Homo sapiens: one gene and its partners. The protein of the gene in region 3 interacts with the protein of the main gene of each other region in a biochemical or structural test. Each region holds a gene or a part of one and is shown on either strand. Other genes may lie near its edges. The genes, in order: TLK1, CHAF1B and ASF1A.

Region 1 (3,442 bases), on a different chromosome or scaffold from region 3:
TAGTCAGAAGTGTGCATTTATTCATTGTCCATGATCCTCTCTCATACAAATGACACTATGAGGAACTTCAGTTCACAAACAGTTCTTAACCACGTCTTGTGTAAAAAAAAAAAAAAAAAAAAAAGAAAAAGAAAACAAACACTCAAATGCTCTCAAACTTAAGTGTGCATCTGGAAGCAAATTCAAAGATATCATGCCAATCTTGGAGGAAAGTCAGTAAGTAATTATGCTTGAAGAAGGGGGTGTAGGGGATGCTGTCAGCCCAGCCATGTGTAGGTTTCCTGAAGAATTTGATCTTCTCATGTGTGGGAGAAGGTATGGGTCATTTGCCAGCTGGTGCACATCAAATCGATCTTCTTTTCGATATGCCAAACAGCGTCTTATAAATGCCTCAAAAAGAGAAAGGAAATGTTAGCAATTAATGATCTTTTTCCCTTCTAAATATCAATCAACTGAATCAGCAGAAGGATGGACACATTTAAGACATAAGTAGATCTCATTTTATTGGAAGTTCAAACCTTAAAAAAAAAATTCTGTAGCTAGAAAATTCTCACTCCAAATGCAACTCACTGCTTGAAGCCCCTGCAGTGGTTCACTTTACAGTCTAAATTACTACTGCAACCATTTGAACTTATACTGGAAAGTTGTTTCTGCTTACGAAATTCTGAAGACTTTTTTCTAGCATTTTTCTTCTGCTAAACAGTCCTCCCACCCTCATCCCATTTTGTTATCACTTCAGTTTAGCAAAGGGTAAGATGCCATTTTCAACCATTATTTTTTTTTCCTACTGACATAAAGACTTTCTTTAGATGAAGAGATCACTGAAGGGACACTTTCATTAGGGACATTGTTTCCCAGGTTAACCCTATGCATCATTACACTCCTGGAAAAGCTAAATAAACAGAATATAATCACTATTTTTTTTTTCTCAAACCAATTTTACTCAGTTTTTCTTTGAGAATAGCCTCTTACAAAAAAAAAAAAAACCTTTCCTGAAGTGTAACACATTTTTAGAAATGCACACAAATCGTTAAGTGCATAGCACAAAGTAAATACATCTATGTAACTGGCAACCAGATCAAGAAAAAGAACCTCTGAATCCCCCTCATGCCCAGTTCCAGGCACTGGCTCTGTCCCCAGTCGAACCTGGGTTAACCTTTATCTTGACTTCTAAAACCATAGTTGAGTTTTGATTGTTTGAATTTTATATAAATAGAATTATAAATTATGTTCTCCTTTGCCAGGCCTCTTTCACCCAATATTAAATTTTGAGGTTCATCCTTTTTTGGGGGGGGAGGGAACAGATAAAATATTCTCAGGAGGTAACTGGTAATTGTTTCCCTTTCTTAATGCTGACACTAGAAATTAATACATACCATTAAACAGAAGTATAATCACATTAAAAGGTAACTATTTTGCACTTTCTTTGCTTTGAAATTCATTAGAAGTATATTTTTCTCTAAAAATATACCTAGCTATTCTCATTTTACCATAGCTTACTGTTTATTGGAAGTCAATCTGATCCCTTAGAGGACTTATCTTTTTTATCTTTAACAAAGTTTCAGAGATCACTTTGAAAAATGATTAAGAGGGAAAAAAACATCAAGACTGATATGTTAGAGTTTGAGGAGTGGAAAGGCTATCAATAGCAAGGTTAAGGTTAAGTCTGCAACAAATAATGTACTTAAAGATGCCCACACCAAGTCAGGGAAAGTACTTGGCAAAGGTATCTTCTGTAGGGATACAGAATATAGAGATATTATATATTACATTAAAATATTAAAATTTATATCATATAATTGTATCATATTAATATTATATCCCCCCAACAACCCCTTAACCCTTCCTGGATTCCAGATCTCTAAAAGGTGACTGTGGTGCCTATTAAGAGCCTAAGGAGAGAACCAGGAATGGCTAAATGAGACTTTGCCTTTGGCAACTCCACTCCTCCTGGTCTTTTCAGTCAGTATTAAACAAACAGATCATGAATCAACTAAATTCATTTAATTTCTGTTCTCAATGAGGCTACAGACAGAAAATAAGACAAGATTTAGATGTCAGCACAGTTAAAATATTTTTAAAGGAGTCATATTTATCTTACAAAAATAATTCATTTTGCTTTCAAATAAGAATATTTATCTCTTTTGTTTTTTTGAGAATGGGTCTTGCTATGTCGCCCATGCAGGAGTGCAGTGGTGCGATCTCACCTCACTGCAACCTCTACCTCTTGGTCTCAAGCGATCCTCCCAGCTCAGCATCCTGAGAAGCTGAAACTAAAGGCACGGGCCCCTACACCGGGCTAATTTTTGTATTTTTAGTAGAGATGGGGTTTCACCATGTTGCCCAGGCTGGTCTCGAACTCCTGGGCTCAGGCAATCTGCCTGCCTGGGCCTCCCAAATTGCTGGATTACAGGTGTGAGCCACCGCGCATGGCCTATTTGGTTTTTTTGAGACAGGGTGTCACTCTGTCCCCCAGGTTTGAGTGCAGCGGTATCGTCATGGCTCACTGCAGCCTTGACCTCCCTGAGCTCAGGTGATCCTCCCACCTCAGACTCCCAAGCAACTGAGACTCTAGATGTGTGCCACCACGCCTGGCTAATTTTTGTATTTTTAGTAGAGACCGGGTTTCACCATGTTGGTCAGGCTGGTCTCAAACTCCTGACCTCAGATGATCTGCCCGCCTTGGCCTCCCAAAGTGCTGGGATTACAGGTGTGAGCCACCACGCCCAGCCTTATTATTACTTTTAATATTTCTTATATACTTATATATCTCAGTATTAACATAAGCAGATAAAATAATACATAAAAGGTAATGATGAGCCCAGATCTTGTGATTTTTCCCTAATTTTCAAAGTAGCAGCTGATGAACATAAACAATCAGAGACCATAGCTTAAAAGATAAAAACTATAGCAACCAGAGGCTGATGCAACTCCTTCTCTGAAAGTAAATCACCAGCCCCTGCTGGACAGATCCCCTGCAGCAGCGAGTCTTGTGACTTTACTTACTGGAAAGTACTTACCTTGTTGTCAGCACAACTGATGAAAGAAAAGTTACTTCACAAAACTCATTTACAAAAATTTAATACCTTGGCTTCACTGCTTACAACCGGTTTTACAGGGAACTGGACTTCTGTGGCTTTTAATATTGTATTTTCTTGAAGAATGTCTTGTTGAGATTGATTGTGACCAAATGGCTTAAAAAAAAAATTAAATGTTGAGATACTTTTCTCACAAAATATTTAAACACAGATATCATTTCTGTTTAAGCGAATTCCCAAAACCGAAAATCCAAATATCTTGTGTTCTAAAATCTTCCTCAGTTATTTGAAACCTGAGATGAATTCTCATACAAACAAGCTATAATTGATAGCAGGCCAAGAAAGCCTACCTAACAGATCTTCAACATAGATTAAACACTGTAAGAAGAAGAAAATAATGCTGT
Region 2 (3,657 bases), on a different chromosome or scaffold from region 3:
CTTCAAACAAGCTTGTGATTTTGCTCGAACTTCCCTCTTCTAAGTAGATGTGAGAGTGTTGGTAAGGTCTGTAACTTTTCCCTGTTTTGGGGACGAAGGTCCAGCGATGGTGCCTTCCTGGCCATTTCTTCCACGGACGGTTACTGCTCATTTGTGACATTTGAGAAAGATGAACTTGGAATTCCTTTGAAAGAGAAGCCAGTTTTGAACATGAGAACTCCTGATACAGCAAAGAAAACCAAGAGTCAGACACATCGAGGGTCTTCGCCAGGACCCAGACCGGTAGAGGGAACCCCTGCCAGCAGAACCCAAGACCCCAGCAGCCCCGGCACGACTCCCCCTCAGGCCAGACAGGCCCCAGCCCCAACAGTCATCAGGGACCCTCCCTCCATCACTCCTGCTGTCAAAAGCCCCTTGCCGGGGCCTTCGGAGGAGAAGACCCTGCAGCCCAGTAGTCAAAACACAAAAGCCCACCCATCCCGGAGGGTCACTCTGAACACACTGCAAGCCTGGAGCAAGACAACACCCCGGTAAGAACTTGTTGGAACAAGATGTCATTGCAAAATGAAACACAAAATGCAGACAGAACGCTCCCACCCTGCTGCAGGTGAAATTTCAGGCGGTGAATGCTTCATGCCAGTAGGTTGCCAGAGAGATTCTTAACTTCAAATCCGAGAGTGTCATTTCTTGCATATAGGCCTCTGTTTGTTCCTCCAGTTTCTGCCTGTCAGATAAAGCCCAGGCTCCTATGCACACACACAGACTGTGATTTGGCTGCAGCCTGTCATCCAGGACTGTGGCCACTCTCTCTCCTGAGTCTGTGGCCTTCATCTCCGGCCTAGTCCTGAATGTCATCTTCCCAGAGCACTCTCTGCCCTTTGAGGCCTCTGTCCTTCCCTTCTCTGGGGAAGCCCTGGACACCTCTTCCTCTTGGTGATGCCAGGAGTCTCCTGAAAGACCCATTTCAATGTACCCTCTCTGTTTGCAGTCTTTGTGGCCCTTCAGCCTTTCCCTTGTCACCACACATCAGATTCCATAGCAGGTGCTTTGATGCTCCAGTTCCCCTGCTGGTTGTGAGCCCCCAAGGACAGGAAGCAGGTCCCATTTTTTATTTATGCTGTTCTGCCCAGGATGTAGGCAATTCCAGGAGTGTCTTCCTGAGACTGCGTTTGATGTCTCCAGCAGCCTGGTCGGTGAGAAACGGAGGTCCTGATCTGATAACAAATAATCCCCAGGAGGTGCAGAGTCGTTTCTTCCCTGCTTACATCAGTGTGGCTGGCACGCACGCCTGTGTCTGCCACTTCTACTGGATACAGAGCCACTTAGCACATCCTTCTGCCGTCAGGCAGCACAGCCTCCTGTTTCCATTCTTCCCCTGCAGCTGATGTCCAGTTACCCCTCTGATCCTGTATAGTTCCTTCTCCACCAAGCCCTCTGCCTCCCAACCTTCCCATAAACTGAGTCACGAGGAGAGCTGGGAAGGGGGATGCAGAGGGGAGTGGTGGGGATGGTGAGCTGGACAGAAGCGCCCTGTGCCTCTCAGCCTCTCCTGCGCCAATAGGTCTTCTTTGGCAAGTTCATAATATGTGTATGGGTTGCTGGCTTTAACGCCCTCTTAAAATCTCTCATTTCTTTCTGCAGATTAGCAATGTATTTTACAATTTTTCTGTTTGTTTTTATGTGACGGAAGGTATTCCTTGAACTATTTTTGGTATTAAATTATTTTTCCCCTCTTGATTTCTTCTGAATTATTTACCAAGCTTCTTGAAGATGTAATCTTTTGCAAACAAGAATAGTTGTTGAAAATTAAGACTCTGGGTTTTTATTTATTTATTTATTCATTTGAGACAGGGTCTTGCTCTGTTGCCCGGGCTGGAGTGCGATGGCATGCTCTCTGCTCACTGCAACCTCCGCCTTCTGGGTTCAAGTGATTCTCCTACCTCAGCCTCTCAGGTAGCTGGGATTACAGGCATGCGCCACCATGCCTGGCTGACTTTTTGCATTTTTAGTAGAGACGAGGTTTTGCCATGTTGGTCAAGCTGGTCGAAAACTCCTGACCTCAAGTGATCTGCCCGCCTCAGCCCGCCAAAGTGCTGGGATTACAGGTGCGAACCATCTTGCCCGGCCCAACGCTCTGGATTTTAAAAAAGTATTACCTGTGTTTCGACGCTTTCTATATATAGAAACCATATCTGACTGCCTTTTACAGCAGCCAGCAGAGTGTTCACAAGACCGTCGGTAATGAACAGAACACAGGTTTTGAAACTTTTCGATGACTGGTTATGGTTTAAGTTGACTGTTATAAATGTGATGGTTTAACTTAATACATGAATGTAATCCTCAGTTATTAAACAAGTGGGCACATCTTACTATTTAATGCCTTGAACCAGAAGTTCAGCTGAAAATTTAAGTATTTCCTTTGGTAGTTTTGAAGGTTGGTATCATACATAAACAATTCCTGTGATACTAATGAGCCATCACCCCTCTACTTTTTTTTTTTTAAATCAAGGAGAATAAACTTAACACCCTTAAAGACGGACACTCCACCAAGTTCTGTACCAACCAGTGTGATTTCCACCCCTTCTACAGAAGAAATTCAGTCAGGTAAGTAATATTGTTACTGGTTTAATATAATGAAAGGTAGAGTATCTTTTCTTTTGTTCTTTTGGAAATTAATGCCGCCTAATTTTAAGTCAGTTCTGAGACAGCAGGGATGCATCTTATTGGAACCATTGTTTAAACCCGCCGGCTGCCTGTTTACGCCTCAGCAGGGGGCACCTGGCCAGTGAGAGCATCCTGGTGAGCCAGGGAGTGGGTTCAGCAGGAGATTGTCTAGCTCAGGTTTCTCCACCTGATGACTGCTGACCTTGTGGGCCAGGCAATTCTTTGTTGTGGAGGACTGTCCTGTGTATTATGCGATGTTTAACAGCATCCCCGGCTGCTACTTCTTGCCCATGACATTCTTTTTTTTTTTTTCTTTTTTTTGAGATGCAGTCTTGCTCTGTCGCCCAGGCTGGAATGCAGTGGCACGATTTCGGCTCACTGCAGCCTCCACCTCCCACGTTCAAGCAATTCTCCTGCCTCGGCCTCCCGAGTAGCCGGGACTACAGGCGTGCGCCATCACACCCGGGTAATTTTTGTATTTTTAGTAGAGTCGGGGGTTTCACCACGTTGGCCAGGCTGGTCTTGAACTCCTGGCCTCAAATGATCCACCCGCCTCAGCCTCCCAAAGTGCTGCGATTACAGGCGTGAGCCACCGCGCCCAGCTTGCCCATGACATTCAAAAATGCCACTAGACATTGCCCACTGTCCCTTGAGAGGCAAAATCGCCCCTGGTTGAGAGCCACTCTATAGAACTTCCATTATATCAGTATAGGATCTTGCCAGGCAGCTCAGTTCCGTGTCTTGGCTCTGTATTCTGTAAATGTCAGCCCTTGACTTCCAGAATTCTTCATTTACTTGCCAACCTTATGTTTGTTAATGTTGCAGAGACGCCTGGAGACGCTCAGGGCAGTCCCCCAGAGCTAAAGCGGCCCAGACTCGATGAAAACAAAGGAGGCACGGAAAGTCTGGACCCTTGATGGGACCTCGGCTTCTGCTCGAAGCCTACCAGGCTCCCGGTGTGTGCAGGGAGACGGTAAAGCTGGAGGTGCCTGA
Region 3 (2,917 bases):
ATTTTATCCCTTAGAAAAGGGAATACTCTTCTGAGGGTTTTAATAATCTGAGGTTTTAAAACCAAAGAGAAAGAACATATCTGTGTTAATGCTGGTAGCAGTGCAAATGATAGGCTAGAGCTGGGGAGATCAGTTAGAAAATTCTAAGCAATATTCCAGATAGGAGATGACATGAATTCAGCCTCCAGAAATGAAAAAAATGTTGAGACTGACTAGATGTAGGAGATAAGGGAGTGAAGCTGACTGAGGTTTTTAGCCTAGGACACTAGGTAGCGATTTTATGCCTTTTTGTATCATCTACCTGTGTTAGGCATACAGTAAACAACAGTCTTCAATTTTCACAAGCTAAGGCATTGGCTAAAGTGCTCATCTAGGCCCAGGAATATTCCTTGGTGCCCTGGCAACAGGTAAGCTAATTTGCTGGGACTTGATCCATTTACCACCCAGAATGGCTGCCTCAGATGCCTCAGCCATCACTGCCTGTGTTCCCCAGTCTGGCTCCTTCCATCCGGTCGTCTCATTACTACCTGCACCCTACCACGGATGGGGCCCTGCCCTTCGCTCATGCTCTTAGTCTAGTCTAACTCAGTTTACTTTCTGCATTCCTCAAGGTTCACCTTACAATAGCTTGATTTAAAACAAGGTCTTTGACATCTGCCTAAAGCAATCCTTACCTTCACTGGTTTCCACATTATGTGTGGTTTAAAGAGCATACTATATTGTAGAGTCTAGCAAAGTAACTATTCATAATAGAGGATTATTAATATTTTTTGAAAATCTGCTATGTAGCTATTTCCATCTCATTTTCAGTTTTGTTTTGTTTTGTTTGAGACGGAGTCTCACTCTGTCGCCAGGCTGGAGTGCAGTAGTGCGATCTCAGCTCACTGCAACTTCCACCTCCTCGGTTCAAGTGATTCTCCTGCCTCAGCCTCCCAAGTAGCTGGGACTACAGGCACCCGCCACCATGCCCAGCTAATTTTTGTGTTTTTAATAGAGATGGGGTTTCATCATGTTGGCCAGGATGGTCTCAATCTCTTGACCTCATGATCCACCCACCTTGGCCTCCCAAAGTGCTGGGATTACAAGTGTAAGCAACCACACCCAACCTCATTTTCAGTTTTATACTAATTTACTATTAGAATACCTGTGGGGGTGGTTGAGTGGGTATGAGAATATAAGTATCCTGGGTTGAAGAGGGAAACTGGTATAATAAACATTTGTGGCCAACAGTCTATGAGGAGATCATTTAATACTTACTAATTTAGGTCTGAAAATTATGACTGAAAAGGTTAAAATCAATTGCTGACTATAAAGGTTTTATAATGAATAGTGTATAATCCTTTCATGAACCACCATGCAGTGTAGCCAGAATTTCTTCCTTTTACAAGTGTAGTCATGCTTTCAAGTATCAAGGGTCCTTACATATATTGTGGCAAAACATGAACTGTCTTTTCCAGCTTATTATAAGTCAGTCAGAAATGAGCATTTTCCTTCCCAGTATGATTTCCAAGTTTTTCTTGTTGCATCCTCAACTGATGGTTCTAGGTAACTGAAACTCCAGTCTTGCCTGCCACTAACAGCCTTTTGTGTGTGTGTGTTTCTTTTCTTTTTAATTTATTCTAGGCTGATGCACCTAATCCAGGACTCATTCCAGATGCAGATGCAGTAGGCGTAACTGTTGTGCTAATTACTTGTACCTATCGAGGACAAGAATTTATTAGAGTTGGCTATTATGTAAATAATGAATATACTGAGACAGAATTAAGGGAAAATCCACCAGTAAAACCAGACTTTTCTAAGGTAATGTTCTTACTATTCCTTTTTAACTACTTTTACTATGCAATTTTTAAAGCAGTTGCTATTGCAATTTCATAGTATACTATTAAAATGGCTTTGAGATAAAATAAATATGAGGTCCTTATGCCAACTGGGCAAACTAATTATTGTTCCATTACCATGGATGACTTCAAACCCTACCTTCAGATGAGTCATTAGTAATTAATGTAGGCAGACACCTTGAGCATTTCTGGTTTAGAAAAATGAAAGTACCTCTTTTTTTTCTGAGATGGTTTCCTGCTCTGTTGCTCAGGCTGGAGCGCAGTGGCATGATCTCGGCTCACTGCAACCTCTGCCTCCTAGGTTCAAGCGATTCTCCTGTCTCAGCCTCCCAAGTAGCTGGGACTACAGGTGTATACCAACACGCCCAGATAATTTTTGTATTTTTAGTAGAGGTGGAGTTTCACCATGTTGGCCAGGGTAGTCTCCAACTCCTGACCTCAAGTGATCTGCCTACCTTGACCTCCCAAAGTGCTGGGATTACAGGTGTGAGCCACCACGCCCAGAGAAAGTACTTCTTGTAAGACAGGCCTTTGTTTATGGCTTTCTTTATAGCATTTCCCATATTGATTATTCCCATCATGATTCTGTTCATTTCAACCTTTAGGACAAACAAATGCATTTTTGTTGTACTAATTATTCAATGATGATATTTTTGTGTGTAACTCTTCCCAAAATTATGAAAGTTTTATGTTTGTTTTTCCTATGAATACGGTTATCTCAAAACACCTATACGCTTTATCTGCTATTCTTAGAAGTTAAACTAACAGTCTTAAATATTTCTGGTACTGAAAACAGCTTAAATTCTGAGTGAGAAGCTGAAATCTAGGATTCAGCATTCTTAAAGATACTTAGTATTTTCTGATTTTTCACTGGGAACTATAACAGTTTGGTAACTGGTGATTTTGTGAGAGTGCAGAGTAAATGAAGTTGAACCATGCAAGAAAAATTACATGACAATAGAATAGAATGTTCTCATGTTCTTTCTGATAATAAGGCCGGACTATTTTTCACCCTTGTTGTACCTTCCATTGATCCAATTTGTTATCCCTGAAGCACCTTATATAGCACAAAAGAAACA

The links.
Region 1: of the proteins of ASF1A (region 3) and TLK1, one has a biochemical effect on the other in vitro, tested with the Homo sapiens proteins (3 studies listed by BioGRID).
Region 2: the proteins of ASF1A (region 3) and CHAF1B form a complex in vitro, tested with the Homo sapiens proteins (2 studies listed by BioGRID and IntAct).

Annotation. Positions count from the first base shown.
Region 1 is NC_000002.12:170,993,567-170,997,008, forward strand, and holds part of TLK1 (serine/threonine-protein kinase tousled-like 1), read right to left. Parts: intron 3,195-3,442; coding exon 3,087-3,194; intron 391-3,086; coding exon 214-390; 3' UTR 1-213. UniProt on the Homo sapiens protein: Rapidly and transiently inhibited by phosphorylation following the generation of DNA double-stranded breaks during S-phase. This is cell cycle checkpoint and ATM-pathway dependent and appears to regulate processes involved in chromatin assembly.
Region 2 is NC_000021.9:36,412,786-36,416,442, forward strand, and holds part of CHAF1B (chromatin assembly factor 1 subunit B), read left to right. Parts: intron 1-98; coding exon 99-530; intron 531-2,509; coding exon 2,510-2,604; intron 2,605-3,489; coding exon 3,490-3,581; 3' UTR 3,582-3,657. UniProt on the Homo sapiens protein: Acts as a component of the histone chaperone complex chromatin assembly factor 1 (CAF-1), which assembles histone octamers onto DNA during replication and repair.
Region 3 is NC_000006.12:118,904,029-118,906,945, forward strand, and holds part of ASF1A (histone chaperone ASF1A), read left to right. Parts: intron 1-1,623; coding exon 1,624-1,800; intron 1,801-2,917. UniProt on the Homo sapiens protein: Histone chaperone that facilitates histone deposition and histone exchange and removal during nucleosome assembly and disassembly.